Linked DNA regions of Homo sapiens: region 2 is linked to region 1. Evidence: fine-mapped expression QTL. A gene starts in region 1. The other region holds a variant in brackets. All regions are shown on one strand. Distances are from middle to middle. Region 1 holds the start of DRC9 (dynein regulatory complex subunit 9). Region 2 holds the start of LOC124906330 (a long non-coding RNA gene).

Region 1 (14,173 bases):
TTTTGTTGCTTGGGCTGGAGTGCAGTGGCGTGATTACAGCTTACTGCAACCTCAACCTCAACCTCCTCGGCTCAGGCAAACCTCCTGCCTCAGCCTCCTAAATAGCTGGGGCCACAGGCATGTGCAGCCACAACCAGTTAACTTTTTAGTTATTTGTGGAGATGGGCCTCACTATGTTGCCCAGGTAGTACTACATTTCTAACTGATGCAGTAACAGTCTTTTTGTCTGCCCCCTGAGGGTTACTGATCTCTACAGCACAGGTAGTTTTTTAAATTAACATCTTTAAATTGCACTGAAAATGTCAACAAGAAACTGGGAGTTTGCCACCTAAGCCCTTTTGCAGTTTTGCAGCGTGTATGGGTTCTCTTGTCTATGCTGCAAAAGAATTAACATGCTGGAAATGTATTAGGATAAGAGGGTGAAAGAAAGGATTGGGTAGGAAAAGCACACTGGCTGTTGTGTTATTTGGTCTTCCATCTCCTGGAGACAGGACTGAGAAGGAAAGTTTTTGTAGTAAGGGAAAAGAGTGGGAATACTGTCCAGCTTTCCCACTTCCCCTTCCTCCAGTAACATCCTGTTACAAATCTGCTAACCTACAAAGAGGGTAGTGAGATATACTGACCCAAGAGAAAGCAAGACGCCCTCCCCCAGAGGTCCCTCTGTCACACTGGCAGTTCTAAGAAAGGTTTGGTCAGTCCAATGGTGGTATGCAAGCCAAAGCTGCCATTGTTGGAGTCCCGTGCTTCGTGGACATGGGCTTGTGTTAGTACTCTGCCAGGCTCATTTATTAGGATTGTGGTGGTTTTTTTTTTTTTTTTTTTGAGACAGTCTTGCTCTGTCGTCTAGGCTGGAGTGCAGTGGCGCAATCTTGGCTCACTGCACGCTCCGCCTCCCGGGTTCACGCCATTCTGTCTCAGCCTCCCAGGATTGTGGTTTTAAGGCAAACAAAGTGCACTGATGCTGTATTCACCAGAAGTGAGCAGTACTTCAAGGCCGGAAGTTGGAAGTTGTATATTAGAATGCTAATGAAATTGAACTTGGGAATTACGCAGTCAGCGCGAGGAAGTGCTGATCTTGGACACCCACTCCAAAAGGCCAACATAAGCTAAAAGTACCTACTGTGTTCATTGTGCCAGTTAAGTAGATGTGATCAGTAGTACTCGGGGTATTCAGGGATAGAGGCATGTAGGTATACTGGCTGCGTAACATAAAACCGTAAAGTGTAGAGGAAGAAATAGGGCGGCATCTCAAAGAGGAAATGGCAGGAAGATTTTAGGAACACAAGTGGCTGACTGGAAAGTCCAGAAAACTAAAATGCCACATGAGAGGTCTCCTGTACTGAACTGAGGATCTTAGGCTTAAGATTGTTCTTGAGTGTAATACAACGTCACTGAAGAACTTGATTCACAGGAAATTTTAAAATTTACTCATTTGAGACAGGGTTTCTGTTGCCCAGCCTGTAGTGCAGTGGTGTGATCATAGCTCACTGCACCTTTGAACTTCTAGGCTCAGACAATCCCCTGCCCACAACCTCCAGAGAATCTGGTGCATGCCAGGCACGTCCAGCCAATTAAAATGTTTTTTCGGGGTCCCAGGCTGGTCTCGATTCCTGGCCTCAAGTGATCCCCCTGCCTTGTTCTCCTAAAGTACTGGGATTACAGATATGAGCCACCAGCTCAGATTATTTCAAATCCCAATGGCATCCCAGCATAAACAAGGGAAAATTAGGTGGGCTTTTCAGTCTCAAATGGAGAATTCTAACATGTTTCTGGCTTTGGGGGCTGGATGGATAATGGTGCATTTACAAAGTTGGGGAATCAGGAGATGGTTTTGTGGGAGGAGCTAAAGTTGAATTTGAGGAAGCTGTAAGATGTTAACCTGTGGACATATCCATGAAGACAGATGGGTATTTCAGGTCTGGGTTAGGCATATGGAGAAGTGGATGGTATTCTGAGTGGAACAGACACACGGTAAGTGGTAGGCATCTGAGCAAAGCGGGGGAAAACAAACGGTTGAGACTTTAACTCGAGTAACTTACATGTGCAATGGCAAATGAGACTCAAAAGCAAATACATGCTCTTCCTTACTGAGATGATGCAGCATTTGTAAATAATAAATGTATGTTTTTATGTTTTTCTCCTCCCATATGGAAATTAAGTCAAAAGTACTCAAGTCACCGTTGCCAAAGGAGGAGTCCTGTGGTTTACAGGAAAGGGCTTGCGTGGCTGGTAACTTGTCCACTACACCATTGAAACAGCTTTGCCTCCTGGCTGGGCGCGGTGGCTCACGCCTGTAATCCCAACACTTTGGGAGGCGGAGGCGGGCGGATCACCTGAGGTCATGAGGTTGAGACCAGCCTGGCCAACGTGGTGAAACTACGTCTCTACTAAAAACATAAAAATTGGCCGGGCGTGGTGGCGGGTGCCTGTAATCCCGGCTACTCGGGAGGCTGAGGCAGGGGAATAGCTTGATCCCGGGAGGCAGAGGTTGCATTGAGCCGAGATTGTGTCACTGCACTCCAGCCTGGGCGACGAGTGAAACTCCGTCTCAAAAAAAAAAGAAACAGCCTTTCCTCAGCATAACACTATTGTTACAGCCAGGAGCTTAGGATGACTGGTTCCATTCTTTATTCACAATAGCAATTTATTTGTGGTATTGTAGTGGAAAGGGCACGTTTCCTAAGTTACAAATGTGGTTTGGAATCCCACCTTCCACTAGTTGTGGGATGATACACACATTTAGTGAGTATTTACTTGTAAAATGGTAATACTTAAAACACCACCCCATCCTCGTAGCTGAATCTCCACCCATAGTTTGTAACTTGAGGTTTTCCTTCTTTCCTACTCCTTCATTTCCCAGTATAGTAGCTTACCTATTCAATTCCCGTTGAATGACTTCCAGCTCAGTGAGTTCGTAATTTTACTTCTTAGTGTCATGAGCCACTGGGATTTGTCCCAATTTCCCATTTTGTATAGTTCCTCACGGCTCAGTTTCGAAGGCAAGGTTTCCTTAATGGCCAGGATCCCCCTTATCTCAGGTGCAGTGGCAATTCTTGGCTGGAAACTAAAAGATGGAGTTGAGTAAAACAGTAAACGGTGTATCATAGATTTTTATAGGAAATGGCGTTAGTTAAGTAATGGGCCTAAAGTTGGTGACTCAGGATAAGTAAATGAAAGTATTCCACTCACCTTTTCATACAGAGGACTACACTGAAAGATTTTGCAGAGGGTTGTATGTACGTCTAAACACCTGGCACCTAGTAGGTGCATGTCACTTTGGTAAATGAAAGAACTGAAAAACTGCCTCAAGACACCCACATACGGCCAACGCCCGCTAGCCTTTCTTCCTCCCACAGCCCCACTCACGTGGGCCTCCAAACAGCATTTATTGGCCGGCTTCGCGCCACGAGACGCGATGGACGTGATCGCCGCCCTCATCTTCTGCGGCGAACTTCTAGCGGGTGACGCTGTCCAATCGGAAAGCGCCTTTCCGCCGGCTGGGCCCTCCGTCTACCCCCAGCGGCGAGGGGCGGGGCCGGCGCGGGCGCAGAGGCGTCACGCACTCCATGGTAACGACGCTCGGCCCGAAGATGGCGGCCGAATGGGGCGGAGGAGTGGGTTACTCGGGCTCAGGCCCGGGCCGGAGCCGGTGGCGCTGGAGCGGGTCTGTGTGGGTCCGAAGCGTTTTACTCCTGTTGGGCGGGCTCCGGGCCAGCGCCACATCTACTCCCGTCTCCTTGGGCAGTTCCCCTCCCTGCCGGCACCACGTCCCCTCTGACACTGAGGTAGGGCGACATGGGCGGGAGCGGGCCCTCTCAGGGTAAAGTCACCCAGAAGGAGCAGGCGTAGGAGATAGTGACTGGGAGAAGGTGTCCTGGATGAGAAAGCGAAATTGGGGCAGAGCCTGACTCTTACAGGCCTGGGACCCGCTCTCAGCTCCCTACACCCTGCAAGTTGGCTGTTAGGCGCTCAGAACAGTATCACTTCTGTGCGGAGGGTTGTGCTTAGCAGTAGCCCTCGAGGAGTGGTTTTCAAACTTGAGCGTGCATCACAGTCACCCGACGCACATGGTACAACACGGATTGCCGCCCTCAGTCCCCCACTTAGTGACTCAGTAGGTCTGGGATGAGTCCCCAGAGTTGACAGTTTACGTTCCCAGCTGGTTGGTGAGATATGCTTGTCCGGGGACCACTTTAGGAACCGCTGACCTGAAGTTTCGGGAAGACATTGAACGGAGAGCCAGATAGAGGCGTTGGTGGGACGTTGGGGGCTCACTGGAGACAAAATTCAGGTTTCTTTTCACGTTATGTCGTCACTTTGTTTGCTTTACCCGGTTCCTCTGCTCTGGAAGTGCCTGCCCGCCTCCCATCCCATTTTTCTCTCTGCTTAAATTCTTTGTCTCATTTCAAATTCCCTAACCTCAAGGCAGCCTGCTGAAACCACCACAGCGCAATATTCTTTTCATTAAAAAGTACATCGTGTCTGTACTCCCTCCTGGCATTTAACCAAGTACTGCTATGGGATAATGGCTTATTTTTTAGGCGTATCTTGCCTTTGCAGTTAGATTATAAGGTTCCGTGGGATAAGGTTTGTGTTTCATACTTTGATTCCTTCACAGTATTTAGGTCAGAGGTGGGTCCACGATAATCCATATTCTTTGAGAAAGGGAGAGTACCTGGGGCAGGGCTGCATGCTGATACACCTACACATGTTCAATTCAGCCCAGAAATCTAAAGACACTCATTTTTATGGTAATTTCCCAAAATGTTACATGCATACTCTTCATAACCAAGTGAGCCAAAATATTAACTTCGGAGTTTATAGCTTTTTTGCAGCTTTTATCATGCTGCATTTTCGCTGAATTCTTTAAAAAAAATTTCCCACAAAACCCTGCACTTCTCTCTTTTAATTTGGATTAAAATAAGAGAAAGAGTCCTGGTCCCTAATACGTTTCGCTAGTTCCTCATAGAGTATATAAATACCCTGTCGTCCTCACTATTCTCCTTGTTTTAACCTGGACACGGAGTATAGCCAGGAGCTACAGTGTTCACTGTAGTTACGCTAATGACTATACCTCTGTTCAATGCTACAGGAAATTACATAACTTTTTTGGTTTTGGTGGTGTTGGGGAGCTACAAAACAGTTTTACTTTTTAACTGGTTCTCAACTAAAGCCTGTAAGTTTTGTTTTTACCTTTTATTACGCCGGTACAAACAACATCAGAATAATTTAATGAACCCGCATGGACCCATCACCTAGCTTTAACACCTAGCTTTAAGGTTCCGCCATTCTTGTTTCATATACTTTCAGCCATTCCGCAGCCCCCTACTTGAGTTACTGTTCTTTTGAAGTTTTTTGGTAAAATTTACATATATTGAAATGCCACAAATGTATCCATGCACATCCACATAAAGCATACAACCCATCACAACATAGAACGTTCCCACATCTCCAGACGTTCCCTCCTGTCCTGTGCCAGTCTCCTGCCCACCCCAGGCAACTAGTTTTCTAATTGTTTTTTTTTTAAATACTAGATTAGTTTGGCCAATTCTAGAGCTTCGTGTATTGAATGGAATTATATGGTATGTACTCCTCTGTATTTGGCATCTGCTCAGCATTATGTCTGTGAGATTCGTGTTGTATGTGATAGTAATTTATTCCTTTGAATTGCTGAGTATTCCATTGAATACTTATATCACAATTTGTTTTTCCGTTATCTTGTTCAAAGATGGGTATTTTGGTTTCTTCCAGATTTTAGCTATTATAAATAAAGCTGCTGTCAATATTCTTGTACAGTAATTTTTGTGGATATATGTTTTCATTGTTCTTGGATAAATACCTAGGGGTGAAATTACTGGGTCAAGGGTAGGTGAATGTTTATAAAAAATACTAACCCTTTCTCCAAAATACTCTACCATTTTACACCCCCATCAACAAAATATTAGTTATGGTTGCTGCATATCCTCACCAACAGATGTCCTTTCTAAGAAATCTTTAAATACCCCCTAGGTCATAAAAATATTCTCCTGTGTTCTAGAAGCCTTCACTTTTAGGATTATGATTCATCTGAAATTAATTTTTATATATGATGTGAGATAGGGGATCAATATCCTTTTTTTTTTTTTTTGCCCCATATGGGTATTCAGTTGCCTGGATTATGTACCTCTGTAATAAATATTGAAATCAGACAGTATTGTTATTGTAAGCATTCCTGCTTTGTTCTTCCTTTTCAAAATGATTTTGGCTATTTTAAGGCTTTTATATTTCCATATAAATTTATTTATTTTTTGGCAGGGGGAGGCTCAAAGACAGATCCATATAAATTTTAGAGTCAGCTTCTCAGTTTCTTCAAAAAAGCCTGATGGGTTTATGATTGGGATTGCATTTACTCTATAGATGATTTGGAGATAATTGACATCTAACAGTATCAAGTCTTTCAATCCATGAACATAATGTATGTTTCTCCATTTATTGAGGTGATGCATAATTTTTCTCAGCAAAAATGTATAGATCTTGCATTTTTTCTTCTGTTTTCTTTTCTCTCTCTTTTTTTTTTTTGTTTTGTTTTGAGACAGTCTTGCTCTGTCACTCAGGCTGGAGTGCAGTGGCAGAATCATAGCTCACAGCAGGCTTGAACTCCTGGGCTCAAATGATCCTTCTGCCTTAATCTCCCAAGTAGCTGGGACTCCCAAGTATGCGCCACTACACTTGGCTAATTTTTTATTTTTTGTTGAGACAGAGTCCAGGTGGGTTTTGAACTCCTGGCCTTAGGCGATCCTCCTGCCTCGACCTCCCAAAGTGCCAGGATTACAGGCATGAGCCGCCGTGCCCAGCCAGATCTTGCATGTTTTTTGTTAAATGTTTTCCTAAGTCTTTTATTTTTTGATGCCATTGTCAGTGGAATTATGGTTAAAGTTTTCCAGTTGTTTGCTGCTAGTATGTAAAAATACACTGCTAGTAGGTAGAAATAATTTTTGTATATTAACCTTGTCTTCTGAGACCTAGCTAAACTTATTTATTCTACTAGGGTTTCCTCCCTTACAATTTTTGATGTTAGCAATGTATTAACTATAAATAGGAACAATTTTTGTTGTTGTAGTTTTGTATCATTTATGTATTTTTTCCCCCTTATTGCTCTGGTGAGGACAGGCAGTTCCAGGCTGAGCAAAAGTGAGATAGCACGCCTCCTTGCCATTTGTTCCTGATCTTAGGACCAGTCTCTGACCATTAAGTATGATGTTAACTTTACATTTTTTTGTAGTTCCCTTTATCAGATTGAGAAAGCTCCCTTTGGTTTCTGGTTTCCCGAGGGTTTTTATCCTGAATGGGGACAAATTTTGTCAAATGCTTTTTGTTTTTTCTGGTAATTATTGAGATAATCATATAGTTTCTCACTTTATGAACTGTTATGTGGTAGATTACATTGCATTTTCCAATAGTAAATCAACGTTGCTTTTTTGGGATAAACCTTACTTGGTCATGTTGGCTTTGGTAATTTTCTTTAATGTTTGTTTCTATTTCATTGTTTTCTGTTCTTTGTTATTTCCTTTTTCTACTTATTGTGGATTTAGTTTGCTCATATTGTTAGGCGGAAACTTAGATGACTGTTTTTTAACCTTTTTTTCCTTCTAATGTAAACATTCAAAGATATAAATTTCTAAGTACAACTTTAGCTGCTCTTCACAAATTTTGACACTTTGCATTTTAATTATCATTTAGGTTAAAATTTTTTTTTTGTTTTTTGTTTTTTGTTTTTTTTTTTTGAGACAGAGTCTTGCTCTGTTGCCCAGGCTGGAGTGCAGTGGCGCAATCTCAGCAGAGCAACCTCGGCTTCCTGGGTTCAAGCTATTACCCTGCCTCAGCCTCCTGAGTAGTTGGGACTACAGGTGCACGCCACCACACCCAGCTAATTTTTGTATTTTTAGTGGAGATGGGGTTTCACCATGTTGGCCAGGATGGTTTTGATCTCTTGACCTTGTAATCTGCCTGCCCTGGCCTCCCAAAGTGCTGGGATTACAGGCGTGAGCCACCACGCCCGGCCTAAAAAAGTTTTTTAAGAGACAGGGTCTTGGTCGGGTGCAGTGGCTCATGCCTGTAATCCCAGCACTTTGGGAGGCCGAGGTGGGTGGATCACCTTAGGTCAGGAGTTTGAGACCACCCTGGCCAACATGGCGAGACCTGTCTCTACTAAAAATACAAAAATTAACCAGGTATGGTGGCGGGCACTTTTAATCCCAGCTACTCTGGAGGCTGAGGCAGGAGAATTGCTTGAATTCAGGAGGTGGAGTTTGTAGTGAGCTGAGATTGTGCCACTGCATTCCAGCCTGGGCGACAAGAGCGAAACTCTGTCTCAAAAAAAAAAAAAAAAAGAAAGAAAGAGACAAGGTGTCCCTCTGTCACCCAGGCTGGAGTGCAGTGATATGATCATAGCTCACTGCCACCTCGAACTCCTGTGTTCAAGCAGTCTCCCCGCCTCAACCTTATGAGGAGCTAGGACTTCAGCCACATGCCACCACACCTGGCACATTTTTTATTTTTATTTTTGTAGAGACAGAGTCTTGCTGTGTTGCCCAGATTGGTCTTGAACTCCCAGTTTCAAGCAATCCTCCTGCTTCAGCCTCCCAAAGTGCTGGGATTACAAGCGTGAGCCACTGCACCTGGCTGAGATTATTTTATTTATGGTTTAGAATATGATCTATCCTGTTTAATTTTTCACGTGTACTTGTGAAGAATATATATTCTATAGTTTTTTTTTATTTTATTGTTTTAGAGATGGGATCTCAGTATGTTGCCCGGGCTGGTCTTGAGCTCCTGGACTCAAGCAATCCTCCTGCCTTGGCCTCCCAAAGTGCTGGGATTATAGACATGAGTCACTGTACCTGGCCTATTCTGTAGTTATTGAATATAGATTTCTATACATGTTAATAAGCTGAGGTGATTGATACTTTACTTCAGATTTTCTCTATTAAAAACTATTGGCCAAGTACAGTCACTCATGCCTATAAGTCTAGCTCTTTTGGAGGCCGGGATGGCAAATCGCTTGAGCTCAGGAGTTCAAGACCAGCCTGGGCAACTTAGTGAAACCCCGTGTCTACAAAAAATACAAAAATTAGTTGGGTGTGGTGTTGTACACCTGTAGTCCCACCTACTTGGTGGGGCTGAGGTGGGGGAATCACTTGAGCCCAGGAGGTGAAGGCTGCAGTGAGCCAGGTTGGCACCACTGTGTTCTAGCCTAATAAAGACTGTATTAATACAGGAGAAAATAGGTGTATTTAGCTTGCTTGTGGTTCAAGCTTACATGTGTATCTTTTCAGTTGCCTACATTTACCTGTGTGTATGTGTGTGTGCTTGTGCATTTTAGGCATTACAACATATATCTTTTGTTTATTGCATGTTTTTATTTTTGAGACAGAGTCTCTCTCCGTTGCCCAGGCTGGAGTGCAGTGACACAATCTTGGCTCACTGCAACCTCTGCCTCCTGGGTTCAAGCAATTCTCCTGCCTCAGCCTCCAGAGTAGCTGGGATTACAGGCACCTGCCATCATGCCCGGCTAATTTTTGTATTTTTAGTAGAGACAAGTTTCGCCATGTTAGCCAGGCTAGTCTCAAACTCCTGACCTCAAGTGATCCACCCGCCTCAGCCTCCCAAAGTGTTGGGATTACAGGCATGAGCCACTGCACCTGGCCTATTACATCTTTAATGTTAATATTATCACACTGTCTGGGGCATGATGTTGAATAAGAGTGGTGAGAGTAGACATCCTTGTCTTGTTTCTGATCTTAGAGGGAAAACATTGTCTTCCACTGTTAAAAATATTAATTGTGGAGTTTTTGGGTAGGTATGCTTTATAAAATTAAGAAAATTCCCTTCTATACCTAGTTTTCTAAGAGTTTTTTTTTTTTTTAATCATGGATGGATGTTGAATTTTGTTAACTGTCTTTCCTGCACCAGTTGATACAATCATGTGGCTTTTCTTCTTTACTCTGTTGATATTATGAGTTACATTGATTGATTTTTTTTGAATGTCAAATCAGCCTTGCATTCTTGAGATGAACCTCACTTGGTGATGATTTATTACCCTTTTTACATTTTGCTGGGTTTGAGTTGCTCATATTTTGTTGATGATTTTACATCTATGTATTTTTATTTTTTTAGAGACAGGGTGTTACTCTGTCATCCAGGCTGGAGTATAGTGGCACAATCATAGCTCACTATACAGCCTTAAATGACTTGGCTTAAGCAGTCCTCCTGCCTCAGCCTCCCAGTTAGCTAGGATTACAGGTGAGAGCCACCACACCTGGTTCATTTATTTTCATGTTTAGTGGATATGGGCTCTTGCTGTGTTTCCCAGTCTCGTCTGGAGCCACTGGGCCCAAGGAGTCTTCCTACCTTGGCCTCCCAAAGCTCTGGGATTGTAAGTGTGAGCCACTGCACATTTACATCTATATTAATAAGGGATATTGGTCTGTAGTTTTTTTAATTTTATTTTTTAAATTTTATATTTATGGTTTTTTACCAACTACCTGCAAGGATACTGGTCTGTAGTTTTCTTTTCCTCTCTAATAATAACTTCAGGTTTATCGGGGGAACCCGCCCCCAATATTTCAAAGTAGGTTCTTTCTATTTTCCCTAAGTGTCAGCCAGCTGAGAAATACAGAGAAAGAGTACAAAGAGTGGAATTTTACAGCTGGGCCTCCAGGGATGACATCACCTATCAGTAGGACCGTGATGCCCGCCTGAGCCGCAAAAGCAGCAGGTTTTTATTAAGGACTTTAAAAGGGGAGGGGGTGTACGAAGAGGGAGTAGGTCACAAAGATCACATGCTTCAAACAGCAAAAAGGAGAACAAAGATCACATGCTTCTGAGGCCAGTAAAGACCACAAGGCAAAGGGCAAAGCAAAGATCACAAGGCCAAGGGCGAAATCAAAAACTCCTGATAAGGGTCTGTGTTCAGCAGTGCACGTATTGTCTTGATAAACATCTTAAACAACAGAAAACAGGGTTTGAGAGCAGAGAACCGGTCTGACCTCAAATTCACCAGGGTGGGGTTTTTTCCCCACCCTAATAACCCTGAGGGTACTGCAGGAGACCAGGGCATATTTCAGTCCTTATCTCAACCACATAAGACAGACACTTCCAGAGTGGCCATTTATAGACCTCCCCCAAGGAATGCATTCCTTTCCCAGGGTCTTAAATATTCATTGCTGGGAAAAGAATTTAGCGATATCTTCCCTACTTGCACATCCATTTATAGACTCTCTGCAACAAGAAAAATATGGCTGTATTCTGCCCAACTCCTTAGGCAGTCACACCTTATGGTTGTCTTCCCTTGTTCCCTAAAATTGCTGTTATTCTGTTCTTTTTCAAGGTGCACTGATTTCATATTGTTCAAACACACATGTTTTACAATCAATTTATACAGTTAGATACAATTATCACAGTGGTCCTGAGGTGATGTACATCCTCAGCTTAGGAAGATAACAAGATTAAGAGATTAAAGTAAGACAGGCGTAAGAAGTTATAAGAGTACACTGGGCGTGGTGGCTTATGCCTGTAATCCCAGCAATTTGGGAGGCCGAGGCGGGCGGATCACGAGGTCAGGAGATCGAAACCATCCTGGCTAACACGGTGAAACCCCGTCTGTACTAAAAATAAAAAAAAAAAATTAGCTGGGTGTGGTGGCAGGCACCTGTAGTCCCAGCTACTTGGGAGGCTGAGGCAGGAGAATGGTGTGAGCTTGCAGTGAGCTGAGATTGCACCACTGTACTCCAGCCTGGGTAACAGAGCAAGACTCTGTCTCAAAAAAAAAAAGAAAAGAAATTGTAAGAGTATTATTTGGGAACTGATAAATGTCCATGAAATCTTCACAATTTATGTTCAGAGATTGCAGTAAAGACAGGCATACGAAATTATAAAAGTATTAATTTTGGGAACTGTATGTGTCCATATTAAAATGAAATCTTCACAATTTATGTTCCTCTGCCGCGCCTCCAGCCGGTCCCTCCGTTCAGGGTCCCTGACTTCCTGCAACACAGGTTTGGTATCAGGATAATGCTGGTCTCATAGCATGAGTTGGGACATGTCCCATTTTCTTCTATATTCAGGAAGAGTCTCTGTAGAATCAATGTTGTTTCTTCCTTAAATGTTTAGTAGAATTCACTAATTAAGCCATCTCAGTCTGGAATTTTCTTTTTTGAAAGTCATAAACTATGAACTCATAAACTTTGATATTGGACTATTCAGGTTATTTATTTCTTAACAGTGTTTTATTAAGTTATGTCTCTCAAAGAATTTCACTTCATTTAAGTTGTCAAATTTATGGACATGAAGTTTTTCATAACATTCCTTTATGATCATCTCTAAATTGCTGGAAAGTCTGTAGTGATATCTTCTGTGTAGTTTCTGACATTGGTAGTTTGTATTCTCTCTGTCTTTTTTTTTTTTGAGATAGGGTCTCACTCTGTTGCCTAGTTTGAAGTGCAATAGCACGATCACTGCTCACTGCAGCCTTGAACTCCTGAGCTCAAGCAATCCTCCCACCTTAGCCTCCCAAAGTGCTGGGATTATAGGTATGAGCCACCATGCCAGCCTTAGTGCTTTCTTTGAGTTTAATATATATATATTTTTTTTAGTATCTTAAGGTGGAACCTTAGATCATGAATTTGAGATCTTTTTTCTAAAATAGGCATTTAAAGCTATCAGTTTCCTCTAAATACTCCTTTAGCTGTATCCCACAAATATTAACTTGTAATTTTATTTTCATTTACTTCTATTTTCTAATTTCCCTTGTAATTTTCTCTACTAACTAAGGGTTATTTAGAAGTTTGTTGTTTGATTTTTTCAAAAGTATTTGGGGATTTTCCCAGATATTGTTCTGAAATTGCATTCTAGTCGAATTTTGTTATTGATAGAGAGCATCCTTTTTACCAGTTCTTTTATGTCTTAAAGTTTGTTTTATGGCCCAAAATATGATCTAGCTAGGTGAATGTCCCACACGCACTGAAGCAGAATGTACAACACAAAATATTGAGTGTTTGCTCCAGTGACTACAATATATGTAGTGTACTTATGGTATCTATTTAAAATAGTCATGTTAAATATGGGACATTTTCAACAGCATAATTTCATTCATTTTGCTGTTGTTGTAATATAATATTGTAAATATATTAATATATGACTTCTTTATATATTTTAAACCTCACAATTAGGCCAGCACAGTGGCTCATGCTTGTAATCCCAGCACTTTGGGAGGCCGAGGCTGGCGGATCACCTGAGGTCAGGAATTCAAGACCAGCCTGGCCAACGTGGTGAAACCCTGTCTCTACTAAAATTACAAAAGTACAAAAATTAGCTGGGCATGGTGGCAGGTGTCTGTAATCCCTGCTACTCAGGAGGCTGAGGCAGGAGAATTGCTTGAACCCAGGAGGCGGAGGTTGCAGTGAGCCAAGATTGTACCACTGCACTCCAGCCTGGGCAATAGAGAGAGACTGTCTCAAAAAAACCCAAAATAAATAAATAAAATAAATAAAAAAAATAAACTTCACAATTAAAAATTTTACAATTTTTGCTTTAAATATTTATTTGTCTCCAAAGAAATTAACAGAAGAAAAGAAGTGTGTATAATTGTGTTGAGGATTCCCAAGACCACTCCAGGTTTGGTGATTGCTAGGTGGCCTCGCTAGATTCAGCTTGTCGTCATACTCACAGCTGAGATTTATTACAGTGAAGGCATACAAAGTAAAATCAGCAAAGGGAAAAGGATCATGGGACAAAGACTAGAGGAAATTAGGCAAAAACTTCCAAGAGTCCTCTCCTAGTAGAGTCACTTAGGACCTGCTTAATTCCTTCAGCAGTGAGTTGTGACAGCGTGCACAAAGTGTGGTCTACCAGGGAAGATTACCTGATTCTTAGAGTCCAGGGTTTTTATTGGAGGCTGGTCACGTAGACAAAATTTCAGCCACTGAAATTTCAGACTCCAGAAGCAAGCAAATGTTCAACATAAACCATATTGTTTCTGCAAATAGTTTAGACACAATGAGCCATCCTTATAACCTAGTGAAGTTTTAAATTACACTTCTAGATGCCAGCAAAAGGTCAACCTTGCAAGCAGGACTTCCTACAGAGAGCAGCAATCTCTGACCTGCTGTGTTGACTCTTCTGCACAATAGTCTTT
Region 2 (15,466 bases), 54 kb before region 1:
GTGGTGGTCACCAGGGGGCTTGTGTCACCCCATTCTCAGCTCCAGGTAGCTCAGCAAAGAGTTAGAGACTCTGGGAGAAAGTAAGGAAAAAGAACAAGAGTCTCTCCCTGGCAATCCAGAAAATTCTTCTGGATCTTATTTAAGACCACCAAGGTGATACCTCTACATGTCTGCATGAACCACAGAATTAGGGGCTTGGAGTGTTCCCTAATGAGGTACGGCTTAGACCACAACACTCAAGTCCCTTCGTATGCCTAGAAAGCCTTTGCAAGAAGGATGAGTACAAATAAACCCAGACTGCAAGGACTACAATGAATACGTAATTCGTCAATGCCCATATACCGATGAACATCCAGAAGCATCAAGACCATTCAGGAAAACATGACCTCACCAAACAAATGAAATAAAGCACCAGGGACTAATCGTGGAGAAACAAAGATATGTGACGTTTTAGACAGAGAATTCAAAATAGCCATTTTGAGGAAACTCAAAGAAATTCAAGATAACACAGAGAAACAATTCAGAAATCTATCAGATAAACTTAACAGAGATTGAAATAATTAAAAAGAAGCAGAAACTCTTGAGTTGAAAAATGCAATTGACATATTGAAGAAGGCATCAGAGTCTCAAGAGCAGAAGTGATCAAGCAGAAGAAGGACTTCGTGAGCCTGAAGACAGGCTATTTGAAAATACACAGGAAAGACAAAAGAAAAAAGGATAAAAGAAATGGAAAGATATTCCATGTTCATGGATTGGAAGAATCAATATTGTTAAAATGTACATTACTACCCAAAGCAATCCACAGATTCAATGCACTCCCTATCAAAATACCAATGACATTCTTCACAGCAATAGAAAAACAATCCTAAAATTTATATGGAACCACAAAAGACCCAGAATAGCCAAAGCTATCCTGAGTAAAAATAAACTGGAAGAATCACATTACCTGATTTGAAATTATACTATAGAGCTATAGTAACCAAAACAGCATGGTACTGGAATAAAAACAGACACATAGACCAATGGAACAGAATAGAGAACCCAGAAGCAAATCAATAAATCTACACTGAATTCATTTTTGACAAAGGTACCAAGAACAAACACTGGGGAAAGGATAGTCCTTTCAATGAATGGTGCTGGGAAAACTGAATATCCATATGCAGAAGAATGAAACTAGACTAGACAGCTATCTCTCACCATTTACAAAAATCAAATCAAAATTGGTTAAAGAGTTAAACTTAAGACCTCAAACTATGAAACTACTAAAAGAAAACACTGGGGAAACTCTCCAGGACATTGGACTGGGCAAAGATTTCTTGAGTAATACCCCACAAGCACGAGCAACCAAAGCAAAAATGAACAAATGGATCATATCAAGTTAAAAAGCTTCTGCACAGGCCAGGTGTGGTGGCTCACACCTGTAATCCCAGCACTATGGGAGGCTGAGGCAGGTGGATCACTTGAGGCCAGGACTTCAAGGCCAGAGGTGAAACCCCACCTCTACTAAAAATACAAAAATTAGCCGGGCATGGCAGTGCACTCCTGTAGTCCCAGCTACTTGGGAGGCTGAGGCACGAGAATCTCTTGAACCCAGGAGGCGGAGGTCGCAGTGAGCCAAGATTGTGCCACTACACTCCAGCTTGGGCGAGAGAGCAAGACTCTGTCTCAATAAATAAATATATAAAATATAAAAGGCTTCTGCATAGCAAACAAAACAATTAAAGTGAAAAGACAACCCAAAGAACTGGAGAAAATATTTGCAAACTACCTATATGACAAGGGTTTAATAAACAGAATATATGAAGAGCTCAAACAAGTCTATAGGAAAAAATCTAATAATGTGAAAAATGGGCCAAAAGGGCCGAGTGTAGTCACTCACACCTATAATCCCAGCACTTTGGGAGGCCTAGGCTGGAGGAATGCTTGAGCTCGGAGTTCAAGGCCCGCCTGGGCAACAATAGTGAGATCTTGTCTCTCTCTCTCTCTATGTGTATAACATATACATACATACATACACACACACATATATATATACATACATATATATATACATACATATATATATACATACATATATATACATACATATATATATATACATACATATATATATACATACATATATATATATATATATATATATTTTTTTTTTTAAAGGGCCAAAGATCTGAATAGGCATTTCTGAAAAGAAGACACACAAACACCAAACAGACATATAGAAAGGTGCTCAGCATCACAGATCATCGGAGAAATGCAAATCAAAACTACGAGACATCATCTCGCCCCAGTTAAAATGGTGTGTATCTAAAAGACAGGCAATAATGAATGCTAGCAAGGCTGTGGAGAAAAAGGAATCCTGGTACGGTATTGGTTGGTGGAAATGTAAATTAGCACAACCACTATGGAGAACAGTTTGGAGGATCTTCAAAAAACTAAAAATAGAGCTACCATATGATCCAGCAATTCCACTGCTAGGTATATACCCAAAAGAAAGGAAATTAGATGTGGAAGAGATGTCTGCACTCCTATGTTTATTGCAGCACTGTTCACAATAGCCAAGATTTGGAAGCAATGTAAGTGTCTACCAACAGACGAACGGATAAAGAAAAGGTGGGGCCGGGCGTGGTGGCTCATGCCTGTAATCCCAGCACTTTGGGAGGCCGAGGCAGATCACCTGAGGTCAGAAGTTTGAGAACAGCCTGGCCAATATGGAGAAACCCCATCTTTACTAAAATACAAAAATTAGCTGGGCGTGGTGGCGCACACCTGTAGTCCCAGCTACTCGGGAGGCTGAGGCAGGAGAATTGCTTGAACCTGGGAGGCAGAGATTGCAGTGAGCCAAGATTGTGGGCAACAGAGCAAGACTCCCTCTCAAAAAGGAGTAAATAAATAAATAAATTTAAAAAGGTGGGACATATAAACAATGGCGTACTATTCGGCCCAGAATGAGATTGTGTCATTTGCAACAATATAGATGGAACTGAGGTCATTATGTTAAGTGAAATAAACCAGGCAGGGGAAGACAAACTTCACATGTTCTTCTTTGTGAGAGCTAAAAATTAAAACAATTGAACTCATGGAGGTCGAGAGTAGAAGGGTGGTTACCAGAAGCTGGGAAGGTAGTGGGGGATGCGGAGGGTGTGGGGATGGTTAATGTGTACAAAAAAGTAGAAAGAATGAATAAGACCCAGCATTTGGTAGCAAAACAGGGCGACCATAGTCAATAATTTAATTGTAAATTTAAAAAGAACCAAACGCGTGTAATGAGATCATTTGTAGCACAAAGGATAAAGGCTCAAGGTGATGGAGACCCCAATTCCCCTGATGTGACTCCCACGTGTCACACGCCTGTATCAAAGTACGTCATGCACTCCATAAGTATATACACCTACTATGTGCCCACAAAAATTAAAAATTAGAAAAAGAAAAGAGTTTAAAATAGAAACAATTTTAAGTCTATAAATCAGTTTTTCAGCAGTCTATTAAAGGAATAACAGGCCGGGTGTGATGGCTCACACCTGTAATCTCAGCACTTCGGGAGGCTGAGGCGGGTGGATCACCTGAGGTCAGGAGTTTGAGACCAGCCTGACCAACATAAGAAACCCTGTCTCCACTAAAAAAAATACAAAATTACCCAGGCATGGTGGCAGGCGCCTGTAATCCCAGCTACTCGGGAGGCTGAGGCAGGAGAATCACTTGAACTCGGGAGGCGGAGGCTGCGGTGAGCTGAGATCGTGCCACTGGGCAACAAGAACAAAATTCCAATCTCAGAAGAAAAAAAAAAGGAATAACACATTATGATCGAGTAAGGTTTATCCCAAGAATTTGAAGATGACTCAACATCAGCAAGTCTATTAATGTATTTCCCTTTATTAACATATTAAAGAAGAGAAAACAATATCATCTCAATTAATGAAAAAAAAATCCATCTCAAAATTGAGTACTCATCCTGATGAGAAGAAAAACTTTTAACAAGAAAAAAAGATACTTCCTGAAGTTGATAAAGCTTGTCTACCAGAAACCTACAGAGTAAATCTCACAGTTGATGATTAAAAAAAAAAAAACTCATTTGTGGCAGTTACCAATTTACTGCCTGTCAGCTCCAAATCCACCTCTTTGCTTTGTGAAAGTGGATGCTTGCTGTGAACGTTTTTCTTGCCAGCTGACAAAATGCTAAGCTGTGTCAGTAGAGGGCGCTGGAGGCACACGACAGGAGGGCGTCTCACTGTCCGGTCACCAGAGTGCGGCTGCCAGCGGTATGTGGGTGGGACACCCGGCCGCACTTGTCCACCCACACGTTTTACTGAGACCGCGCAGGAGGATTCCTGCTGGCCAAACACGTTATGACCTAGTAGGGTTTATCCCAGGAATTTAAAGATGACTCAAATCAGCAACTCTCTCAATGTATTCTACTTTATTAACATATTAAAGGAGAAAAAATAACTCAATGGACAAAAAAACTGTTTTTCTTTTTTTTTTTTCCCTAATTGAGTACGCATCCAGATTAGGAAAACAAAACAAAACAACAAAAAAAACTTTTAGTAAGGTATCTGTCACCTAACCACCATTAATCTCCCATTTTGACTAGTGGCCACGCTGTCACTTTGGGTCCCCGTGCATGAACATCAATTCAGAGCCAATGCTTCAGTCATCTCAGAAGGCCTGGGTAGTTTGCTTTCCCCAGTGCACAGTCACTCTGTAAATAGCACAGGTCTTCTGAGTAGGGCCTAGAGGGAGACTTACAGTAGGTACTTGCAGCAGGGCTGCAGAGTTCATTCTTTGGGGGAAATCCCCCCACACCCTCACACCCCAGTTCATAAAGGGGCCCTGGGGCTGTGAACTGACTCAGTCCTAAGAGCTAGGGGAGAGGCCGTGACTCTCTGCTGTGGTGATTCAAATCAGGTTTCTGGCTACCAGACCCAGAATTTTTTTCTGTTATACTTGAGTAGGCAGCCCAACAATTTTGTTCCTAGAGATACCATCATTCATTAGCCATTGCCAAGAATCCCAGTGGCCAAAGGCATTCTGATTACATCTCTGCCGCCCTTCGTGGTAAATGTGCCCACCTTATCTCTGACAATTAAGTGCTCCCAATTATCCGGAGGCACTTCAGGATCCCATCACCCCACTGATACCAGGAAGCTCATCTCAATGACAACATCCTTAGGGTCACACCTGCCTATGTAGGAAAGCAAGCACAGAGCTTTTAGAGAGGCAGATGCTCCCCTCACTATTCTATTTCTCAATGTCTTAGTAAAGAAGTGTCTTCTGGGCCTTCTCATGGTTAGGAATGGGTGCTTGGTGGTAGACGTGTAAGTCACACATGATAAATCCACTGTGACATTCCTGTCTCCCTACATCTTTGGATTCTCTCCCCCAAATCATAGCAGGGAAGCTCTGACATCTCCACCTCATCAAATGTAGGCAAATGTTGAGTCACCTCCTGCTGCTCAAGCTAAACCATGAAATCCAGACTCTCTGGTAAGTGCATCTATATCAATGAATTAAACAAATGGAGTGTGATAGCCTACCCTGTTGGATCTAACACTCTTAGAATCAACTCGACATGTTTCCCAGGTTTCTTCCAATATTTATTAGCAAAATCTTACCATTCTTTTGGTGTGTAAGTGATTTCCTTCTGAGTTAGTTATCTGAGTTTTATGTCCCACTGTAACATGCTAAGATTTGACCCTAGTTATGGATCCAGTGACAACAGGGGTGACTGTACCAGGTCTGAAGAGTGAGCCGTTTCCAAGGCATCCTCCCAGATGAAGTTATCACAGGGGTGACTGTACCAGGTCTGAAGAGCAACCCTTTCCAAGGCATCCTCCCAGATGAAGTTATCACAGGGGTGACTGTACCAGGTCTGAAGAGCAACCCTTTCCAAGGCACCCTCCCAGATGAAGTTATCACAGGGGTGACTGTACCACGTCTGAAGAGTGACCCCTTTCCCAGGCATCCTCCCAGATGAAGTTATCACAGGGGTGACTGTACCAGGTCTGAAGAGCAACCCTTTCCCAGGCATCCTCCCAGATGAAGTTATCACAGGGGTGGTGACTGTACCAGGTGTGAAGAGCGAGCAACCCTTTCCAAGGCATCCTCCCAGATGAAGTTATCACAGGGGTGACTGTACCAGGTCTGAACAGTGAGCCCTTTCCAAGGCATCCTCCCAGATGAAGTTATCACAGGGGTGACTGTACCAGGTCTGAAGAGCGATCCCTTTCCAAGGCACCCTCCCAGATGAAGTTATCACAGGGGTGAATGTACCAGGTCTGAAGAGTGACCCCTTTCCCAGGCATCCTCCCAGATGAAGTTATCACAGGGGTGACTGTACCAGGTCTGAAGAGCAACCCTTTCCAAGGCATCCTCCCAGATGAAGTTATCACAGGGGTGACTGTACCACGTCTGAAGAGTGACCCCTTTCCCAGGCATCCTCCCAGATGAAGTTATCACAGGGGTGACTGTACCAGGTCTGAAGAGCAACCCTTTCCAAGGCACCCTCCCAGATGAAGTTATCACAGGGGTGACTGTACCACGTCTGAAGAGTGACCCCTTTCCCAGGCATCCTCCCAGATGAAGTTATCACAGGGGTGACTGTACCAGGTCTGAAGAGCAAGCAACCCTTTCCAAGGCACCCTCCCAGATGAAGTTATCACAGGGGTGGTGACTGTACCAGGTCTGAAGAGCAACCCTTTCCAAGGCACCCTCCCAGATGAAGTTATCACAGGGGTGGTGACTGTACCAGGTCTGAAGAGCGAGCAACCCTTTCCCAGGCATCCTCCCAGATGAAGTCATCACAGGGGTGGTGACTGTACCAGGTCTGAAGAGTGACCCCTTTCCCAGGCATCCTCCCAGATGAAGTTATCACAGGGGTGACTGTACCAGGTCTGAAGAGCAAGCAACCCTTTC[C/G]AAGGCACCCTCCCAGATGAAGTTATCACAGGGGTGACTGTACCAGGTCTGAAGAGCGAGCAACCCTTTCCAAGGCATCCTCCCAGATGAAGTTATCACAGGATCTTCAGGCAAAGGAAGTGCGGTGTCCTCAGACACAGGAGGGCAGGGTACTTCCGCTGCCAAGGGAGCTTTAAAGTGATTTGCCAGTTTCATCCGAATCTGAGCAGGTGTTCTCATTCCAAGTTTCAGGGTCCTGTTCTTTCCCTGTGAGTGCTCTAACTTGCATATCAGTAACTTGGCATGACTATGACAAACTCATGTGTAATCCTGACTAAAACACCAGAACAGTGGTGTTGTATTAACAACCAATAATAGAAAAAGGATTCCCCATTGTCACTACTACAACCAACAAGTACACTGGACTTTCTAGCTAGACAACAAGCCATGAAATGAAAACAGACATATAAATAATAAAAAGGATAATATAAAATTGTTATTTGCATGCAGTAAGATTTTCCACCTAGGAAATCCAAATGAATCCACTGAAAAACCATTAGAGGGTTTAACAAATCCACAGCAATACACAAAAGAAATACCTTTCCACATACCATACACTTAGAGACAGAACCAAGAAGGTTTCGCAATGTTATCACAGAAAAACCTGGAAACAACCTAAATCTACTGACAGAATGGTTCACTAAATTTCAGTATATTCTGAGTGTGAGATATATTCTATCAATCAGCTGTACTGCTACAGAAAACATTAAAAACAAAGTAAATGTAAGAAGAAAACAACAGGCTCTGGAACACTATATATAGCATGATCCAATTTACTTAAGAAACAAATACTAGGCCGGGTGCAGTGGCTCATGCCTGTAATCCCAGCACTTTGGGAGGCTGAGGCCAGCAGATCACTTGAGGGCAGGAGTTCAAGACCAGCCTGACCAACATGGTGAAACCCCATCTCTACCAAAAATACAAAAATTAGCCAGGTGTGGTGGCAGGTGCATGTAATCCCAGCTACTCGGGAGGCTGGCAGGAGAATCACTTGAACCTGGAGGCAGAGGTTGCAGTGAGCCGAGATCGCGCCATTGCACTCCAGCCTGGGCAACAGAGCAAGACTCCTCTCAAAAACAAAACAAAACAAAAAACCACCACTGAGAATAGGTATGTTTTTAGGTATAAGTATGTATATGAAAAGAAATACATGTGGAAGAAACTTCCCTTCAGAAAGGGGAGTAATTTAAGAGGGCTTTCACTTTCTTTAACCTATGTATTTCTGTCTGAAATTGTAGCTGGACGTGGTGGTGCACACCTGTAGTCCCAGCTACTCAGGAGGCTGAGGTGGGAGGATCACTTGGGCCCAGGAGTTTGAGGCTGCAGTGAGCTATGGTGGCACCACTGCACTGAAGCCTGGGAAACAGAGAGAGACCCTGTCCCTAAAAAATAAAAAATAAAAAAATATATACTTATGTATTGCTTGTGTTATTGGGCTGAAGATCTGGGAAACTCTGGCGTCATCCCTTCGTGATCCATTTATCTACCAACTCACTGATAAATATCCAACACCTGCCAGGTATCTCACACTTGAAACAGGTAACATGATACATAATTCTTAAAGTGCAGGGCTACAGAACCCTAATTCTAATAGCCTACCAGGTATTTTTTTCAGTAAAGACCTGCAAGAGAGCATCTACAAATTCTCCTCTTTAACCACACATTTGGAATCCTTGACTGAAAACTCATTAGCTTTTTCCAAAGGCAAGCTGTATTATAACTAAGCTGGAAAATTTTCTCTTTATTCATCCAATAGGGTTATTTTGAAAGACTCCAGCTGGGGCTGGGCACGGTGGCTCACGCCTGTAATCCCAGCACTTTGGGAGGCCGAGGCAGGTGGATTACCTGAGGTCAGGAGTTCTAGACCAGCCTGGTCAACACAGTGAAACCCCATCTCTACTAAAAATACAAAAATTAGCTGGACGTGCGCCTGTAATCCCAGCTACTCAGGAGGCTGAGGCAGGCGAATCGCTTGAGCCCAGGAGGCCGAGGTTGCAGTGAGCCAAGATCACGCCACTGCACTCCAGCCTGGGCAGTAAAGCAAGACTGCATCTCAAAAACAAAACAAAAAAAAAAAAAAAAAGAAAGAAAGACTCCAGGTAGACTTAGACATAATTCTAACCTTAGATATATTATAGACCCAGCTTGGTTATTAGTATTGAAAATGCTCTTAAAACCACCGTGTCATATATATTTCACACAAGAAGAAATAAATTGAGTAAACATGTGGAAAAATGTTATGTTCACCTGTTAATAAGCAAAAATAAAAAATAAAACAACTCATTAAATTAGCAGACTTTGAAAAATATTGAAAATGGCTACTAATATTGAAGAGACCTTGAAATTACTGCCTGCAACACTGCTAACGGCAGCACAGATTCGAGAGTATTAGCAATGTTTATTAAAAGTCACAAAATACTAGTCTCTGAAACAAAAATCTCATGACTGAGATTGGCTTTTAGTAAATAGTTGCCATGAAGAAAAACAGTTCTTTGGGCAAAGCTTTAATGAGTGCATTATTTATAATAACAAACTTTAGAAACAACCTAAATATAAAAAAAAAGTGTAACAAATAAACTGTGGCACAACCATTCAATGGAACGTTAAACACAATTTTCAATTATTTTATAAAGAAACTGTAATAACATAAAAAATGAAAAGCAATGAGTAATTTTAAAAATCTTCACTCAACTGGGAATGTTATTTTTATAGTGTAAAAGATTAGTAAATTTTTTTTTTTTTGAGACAGATTCTTGCTCTGTTGCCCAGGCTGGAGTGAGTGGCATGATCTCGGCTCACTGTAACCTCTGCCTCCTGGGTTCAAGCGATTCTATTGCCTCAGCCTTCTGAGTAGCTGGGATTACAGGCGCCCGCCACCATGCCTGGCTAATTTTTGTATTTTTAGTAGAGACGGGGTTTCTCCATGTTGGCCAGGCTGGTCTCGAACTCCTGACCTCAGGTGATCCGCTGGCCTCTGCCTCCCAAAGTGCTGGGATTACAGGCGTGAGCCACCATGTCCGGCCTTTATTTATTTTTCTTTTTTATTTATTGGCCACTATACTATTGGGAAAAATTTTTAAATATAGTCATAATTTAAAAATAATTAATTTAAAAATTATGTCTTTTTTTGGTTTTTGTTTTTGAGACGGGGTCTCGCTCTGTTGCCTAGGCTGGAGTACGGTGGCGTGATCTCAGCTCACTGCATCCTCTGCCTCCCAGGTTCAAGCAATTCTCCCACCTCAGCCTCCTGAATAGCTGGGATTACAGGCGCACCACCATGCCCGGCTAATTTTTGTATTTTTTAATAGAAACAGGGTTTCACCATATTGGTCAGGCTGGTCCCAAACTCCTGAACTCAGGTGATCCACCCTCCCCGGCCTCCCAAAGTGCTGGGATGACAGGCGTGAGCCACTGTGCCCAGCCCATAAATTTGTAGGTCATAATTTGACTTAATAAATTTTAAGTCATAAATTAAGTCATAATTTGAAAATTATGAGTATACAGCAATATAGAAATCGAAAAATTTCTTATGTAAGCTCAATGATAAAAGCAGAAAACAAAATTTTACCTGCACTCTCTCAAATTACAGCTATATAAGATATCTATTCAGATGCATAACCCTGAAAGAAAACATGAGCTAAAGTTCATTAGGCTGAAAGAATGATGGTTGGTTTTCCTTCAAAATATTCTTTTTGTTTCCTCAGTATAAGCAGAGTACAAAAAAAAAGTCAAAGCATAGAAAAGCTGTGGGGACCCACCTGCTGCTCCTTTCTAAGGAACATTTCAATCTCTGTATGAGTCCGGGCCTCTTCTTCGGTTTTCATCCTGAGTTTCTGTAAGAACAATCAGATACCAGTACGTCTTCCCCGCAGGGCTGGGAATCAGAAGTTCTCAAGATGAGAGCAGCAGCTCGGTCGGTAGCTGAGGCTCCCTTTACCAGCTGGGATCCCGGGCTTTCAGTTCCCTGCAACTCCTGTTCACCAACACTGCAGAGCCACGTGGCGCGGCACTGTGTGGACTGCGTGTGTCCCTAACGAGACGAGCACAATCCCGTGAGCTGAACAGAGGTGCCCACTGAAGGACAGAAACGGCGCTCCAAGGGCACAAGGCTGTGGGGCTTAAAAAGGGGGATTCCGGAGTGCCAGGAAGAGTGTTGACGTGGCCTTGAGCCACGTCAGTCTCAGAGCGAGGAGTCCTCCCACACACAGATTCCACGGCCCAAGGACGTTTGTTCCTGCTTCCCTCTTCCCATCTGCCTGCTGCTCTTTCTTGTTTTCTTTTCTTTTTTGTGAGAAGGGAGTCTCCCTAGTTGAAGTCTGAAGTTGCCCAGGCTGGCTTCAAACTCAAGGATCCTCCTGCCTCACTGCCTCACCTCCGATTAGCTGGGACTAGTGCCTGGCTTTGCGTGTGTGCGTGCGTGCGTGCGTGCGTGTGTGCGTGCGTGCGTGTGTGCCATTTAGCATTCCCCTCAAAGAAGATCTACCACTTCTTTCTTCCTCCTGGCATTTTTCACCGTGACTTCTCATCCTATAAACTCAGGTTTGAACGAAGTTCAGCGCTCTCGATGCTGTATTTCTTACTGGAGGAGTGAAAGGTACTGGTTAGATGAAAGAAACAGCAGCAAAATCCTGCCATAACTAAGCACCTCGTTTTGCCCTCTCCCTATAATTAGTCAGAAAAATGGTGATTGGTTTGCCAAAATAAGAAGTGACCAAGGAGAGAAAGTGCAGCCAATTTTCAAAGTCATTATGAGGCGGGAGATGGAGGCTACAGCCCACTGGAATCTCTGCTTGCGAACACGCATATCCTCATTTAGGCTTTTATTTTCAACCTCAAGTGGAGGGGCTGTTGCCGATAGAGATGGAGGGAAATCTTTGTCTCCCTCCTTTGTTAGCTGAGAGGGGATCAGGAGTGACAGCTCAATTGCCATCTCCTGGGTTCTTGGCTAATGTCCCAGGGATTACCTCAATCTCTTCCACCAAGAGTTCCTCTGTTCTGTTACACTTTTTCTGGGTCTGGGCAATCTGCAGCTCGGTATTGGTTTTCATGTAGCGATTCTCCAAGTTGGATTTTGCCTTCATCTCTTGCAGTTGGTCCTTGAGGTTAGCAATATACTCATTCTGACTCTGTAGTGGAAAGACCAGGTTTCTAAATTGAAAATACATTCTACCTCCATTCAGTTCAGTCAGCGGCTTACGGTTCCCTTTTATGCGTATAAATCAATAAGGAACTGGAACTATTTTTCCGCTGTCACACAATGGGAAATTTAGCCAACAATCATGAAGTGTATAGATGAAAGTGAGTAACACAGCATTTCTAAGAATCAGGGCGCATCAGGGCTGTGAGATTAGTTCCCAGGCACATTATTGCTGTACTCCGTATGTCCCACACAGCTTTCTCATTTTGGTAGGAAGAACACTGGTCAAAATGATCAAAAGAACTGACTTCCCACCCAGGCCTCCAGCTGTGTGAACTTGGCCAAGTCAAATCTCCAACTTTTTACTTTCTATAAAACAAACACACAAACATACAAACACCCAACCTGCCTGAAGTATCTCAGAGAGTGATTATTAGGTTTCCTTGAGAACACGTGTGAAAACGCTTTCTTTTTGCAGGTCACCAAGTGCTTGGCAATTGTGAGGACTCAATAGTCATTAAGAAAAATATTTATTCAGCACCAGGCACTGAGCTAGGAAAATTGTGGAGATCTAAACAGACATATTCCCTTCCCTCATAGAGCTTACAGTCTAATAGAAGAGAGGTGGTTAAAAAGAGACAAACACATGTGTAAACTTCCAAAAATTGTGCAAAATGATAGAAAAGGAAGGCTCGAGAGGCTGTGGGAGGAAATAACAAGGGAGGAGTACATTAGACTCTGGAAGGTCTGAGAAGGACTCTCTCGGGAAAGCGATGGCTCATTCGATACCTGAAGGACAGGTAAGCCCACCACATGAAAAATAGGCTTGGCCAGGCACGGGGGCTCACGCCTGTAATCCCAGCACTTTGGGAGGCTGAGGCATGGCGACCAGCTGAGGTCAGCAGTTTGAGACCAGCCTGGCCAACATGGTGAAACCCCGTCTCTACTAAAAATACGAAAAATAGCTGGGAGTGGTGGCGGGCGCCTGTAATCCCAGCTACTCGGGAGGCTGAGGCAGAAGAATCACTTGAACCCGGGAGGTGGAGGTTGAAGTGAGCTGAGATCATGCCACTGCAGTCCAGCCTGGGTGATAGAGCGAGATTCTGTCTCAAAAAAAAAAAAAAAAAAGAAAAGAAAAAGAAAAAAAGGAAAGAAAAAGAAAAGAAAAATAGGGTTAAGGGAACTCTAAAAAAAAAAAAAAGAATAAGTATATGCCCAAATCCTGAAGCAATCAAGACCTGGATACATTCCAGGAACTGAAAGAAAGCTCCGGAGGCTCTAGCCTAGTGAGGGTTGAGGGGAGGACAGGATGAGGTTGGAGGTCGGTAAGGGCACCACACAGGACCCCGGAGACCCAACTGAGAAATTCAGATTTTATTCCAACTGTCATGGGAATCCTTGGAAAGCTTTTAGTCAGGGAGGTAACATTTGTTTGAAAAGAACTGTTTGGGCGGAATCAGTGTGTGAGTAAGTCCACAGGGAGGGGACCTGACGGCACAGCAAACAAGCACACGACTAGCAACAAAAGTGCTTCAACCCGAGACCTGCTCCTCTAGATACCAACCGCCTTTCTTCTCTTTTTACATTTTTTTTGAGATGGAGGCTCGCTCTTGTTGCCCAGGCTGGAGTGTAGTGGCATGATCTTGGCTTACTGCAAGCTCCACCTCCCAGGTTCAAGTGATCCTCCTGCCTCAGCCTTCTGAGTAGCTGGGATTACAGGTGCTCACCACCACACCCAGCTAATTTTGTATTTTTAGTAGAGATGGGGTTTCTCTACATTGGTCAGGATGGTCTTGATCTCCCGACCTCAGGTGATCCACCTGCCTCGGTCTCCCAAAGTGCTGGGATTACAGGCGTGAGCCACCACGCCTGGCCTCCAATTGCCTTTCGTCTTAACCATGTAAGTAGGGTAGAATTAGTTCTTTTGTATTAAAAAAATTTTTTTGTTTAGAGACAGGATCTCCCTCTGTCACTCAGGCTGGAGTGTAGTGGCTCGATCACAGCTCACTATAACCTCCAATTCCTGGGCTCAAGCCATCTTCCCAAGTAGCTAGTACTACAGGTGCATGTCACCATGCCTGGCTAACTTTTTAATATTTTTAGAGATGGGGGTCTCACTCTGTTGCCCAGGCTGGTCTCAAACTCTTGGCTTCAAGGGATCCTCCTGCCTTGGTCTCTCAAAGTGCTGGGATCACAGACATGAGCCACTGCGCCCGGCTTTGTTGTTGTTGTTGTTGTTGTTGTTTTTGAGACGGTCTTGTTCTGTCACTCAGGCTGAAGTGCAGTGGCATGATCACGGCTCACTGTAACTTTGACCTCCCAGGCTCAAGAAATCCTCCTGCCTCAGCCTACAGAGTAGTTGGGACTACAGGTGCATGACATCACACTCAGCTAATTATTATTATTATTGTAGAAACAGAGTCTCACTGTGTTGCCCAGGCTGGCCTCGAAACCCTGGGCTCAAATGATCCTCCCACCTCAGCCTCCCAACATGCTAGGATTACAGGCAGGAGCCACTGCTGCAGCCAGCCTCTTTTCTTTCTTGAGATAGGGTCCACCGTGTCCCCCAGGCTGTAGTGCAGTGTCACCAGCATAGCTCACTGTAGTCTTGAACTCCTAGACTCAAGGAATCCCCTCTCTCCAGCCTCCCAAGTACCTAGGGAATTAATTCTAAGTAACCATTGGAAGAAAAAACAAAGTGGTAATTGGACAAATCCTCCGTTAAGGAAAGCAAGCATAGGCAGCGGTGTCCAATCTTTTGGCTTCCCTGGGCCGCACTGGAAGAAGAATTGTGTTGGGCCACACACAAAATACACCAATGATGAACTAAAAAAAAAAAAAAATCACACAAAAAAATCTCTCATAATGTTTTAAGAAAGTTTACGAATTTGTGTTGGGCCCCAGTCAAAGCCATCCTGGGCCGCATGTGGCCTGCGGGCTACAGGTTGGACAAGCTTGACTTAAAGTATCATTAGGCCCCAACCTGGTGGGGTGGCTCACGCCTGTAATTCCAATGCTTTGGGAAACCAAGGCAGGAGGCTCGCTTGAACCCAGGAGTTCAAGAGCAGCCTGGGCAACACAGTGAAAACCTGTCTCTACAAAAAAATTTAAAAATTAGCTGGGCCTGGTGGCATGCGCCTGTAGTCCCAGCTACTAGGGAGGCTGAAGTGGTAGACTCCCTTGAGCCCCGGAGGCCGAGGCTGCAGTGAGCTATGCTCATGCCATTGCACTTTAGCCTGGGCAACAGAGCAAGACCCTGTCTCAAAAAGGTCCCTAAGATGAATCAGAACGGAATTCTTCAAGTTATTTTGTCTACTAGCTTCTTGATATAACTCTGCAGAATCATTCTAATTGTATGACAGTTATTCCAACTAGATCGGA

What was found. PIP is the estimated chance that this variant, and not a neighbour inherited with it, causes the effect.
Region 2: its variant is fine-mapped to the expression of DRC9 in adrenal gland (GTEx, PIP above 0.99). The same link has a PIP of 0.9 or more in pituitary, putamen and unexposed skin.

What each region holds. Positions count from the first base shown.
Region 1 is chr3:197,956,656-197,970,828 of GRCh38, forward strand. It overlaps DRC9 (dynein regulatory complex subunit 9), which reads right to left and starts at 3,336. Exons shown (of 12, transcript NM_032263.5): 1 at 3,190-3,336; 2 at 2,874-3,064. LMLN (leishmanolysin like peptidase) reads left to right here and starts at 3,562. Exons shown (of 17, transcript NM_001136049.3): 1 at 3,562-3,785. The coding sequence starts at 3,591. RefSeq lists an enhancer at 2,339-2,839 and silencers at 3,391-3,620, 10,950-11,150.
Region 2 is chr3:197,901,969-197,917,434 of GRCh38, forward strand. DRC9 (dynein regulatory complex subunit 9) reads right to left here. Exons shown (of 12, transcript NM_032263.5): 8 at 11,913-12,074; 9 at 10,707-10,781. It overlaps LOC124906330 (a long non-coding RNA gene), which reads left to right and starts at 3,716. Exons shown (of 2, transcript XR_007096246.1): 1 at 3,716-6,470; 2 at 6,604-8,363. RefSeq lists a silencer at 4,181-4,230 and enhancers at 10,663-11,862, 11,246-11,877. The variant C/G (reference allele first, on the strand shown) is at 6,910.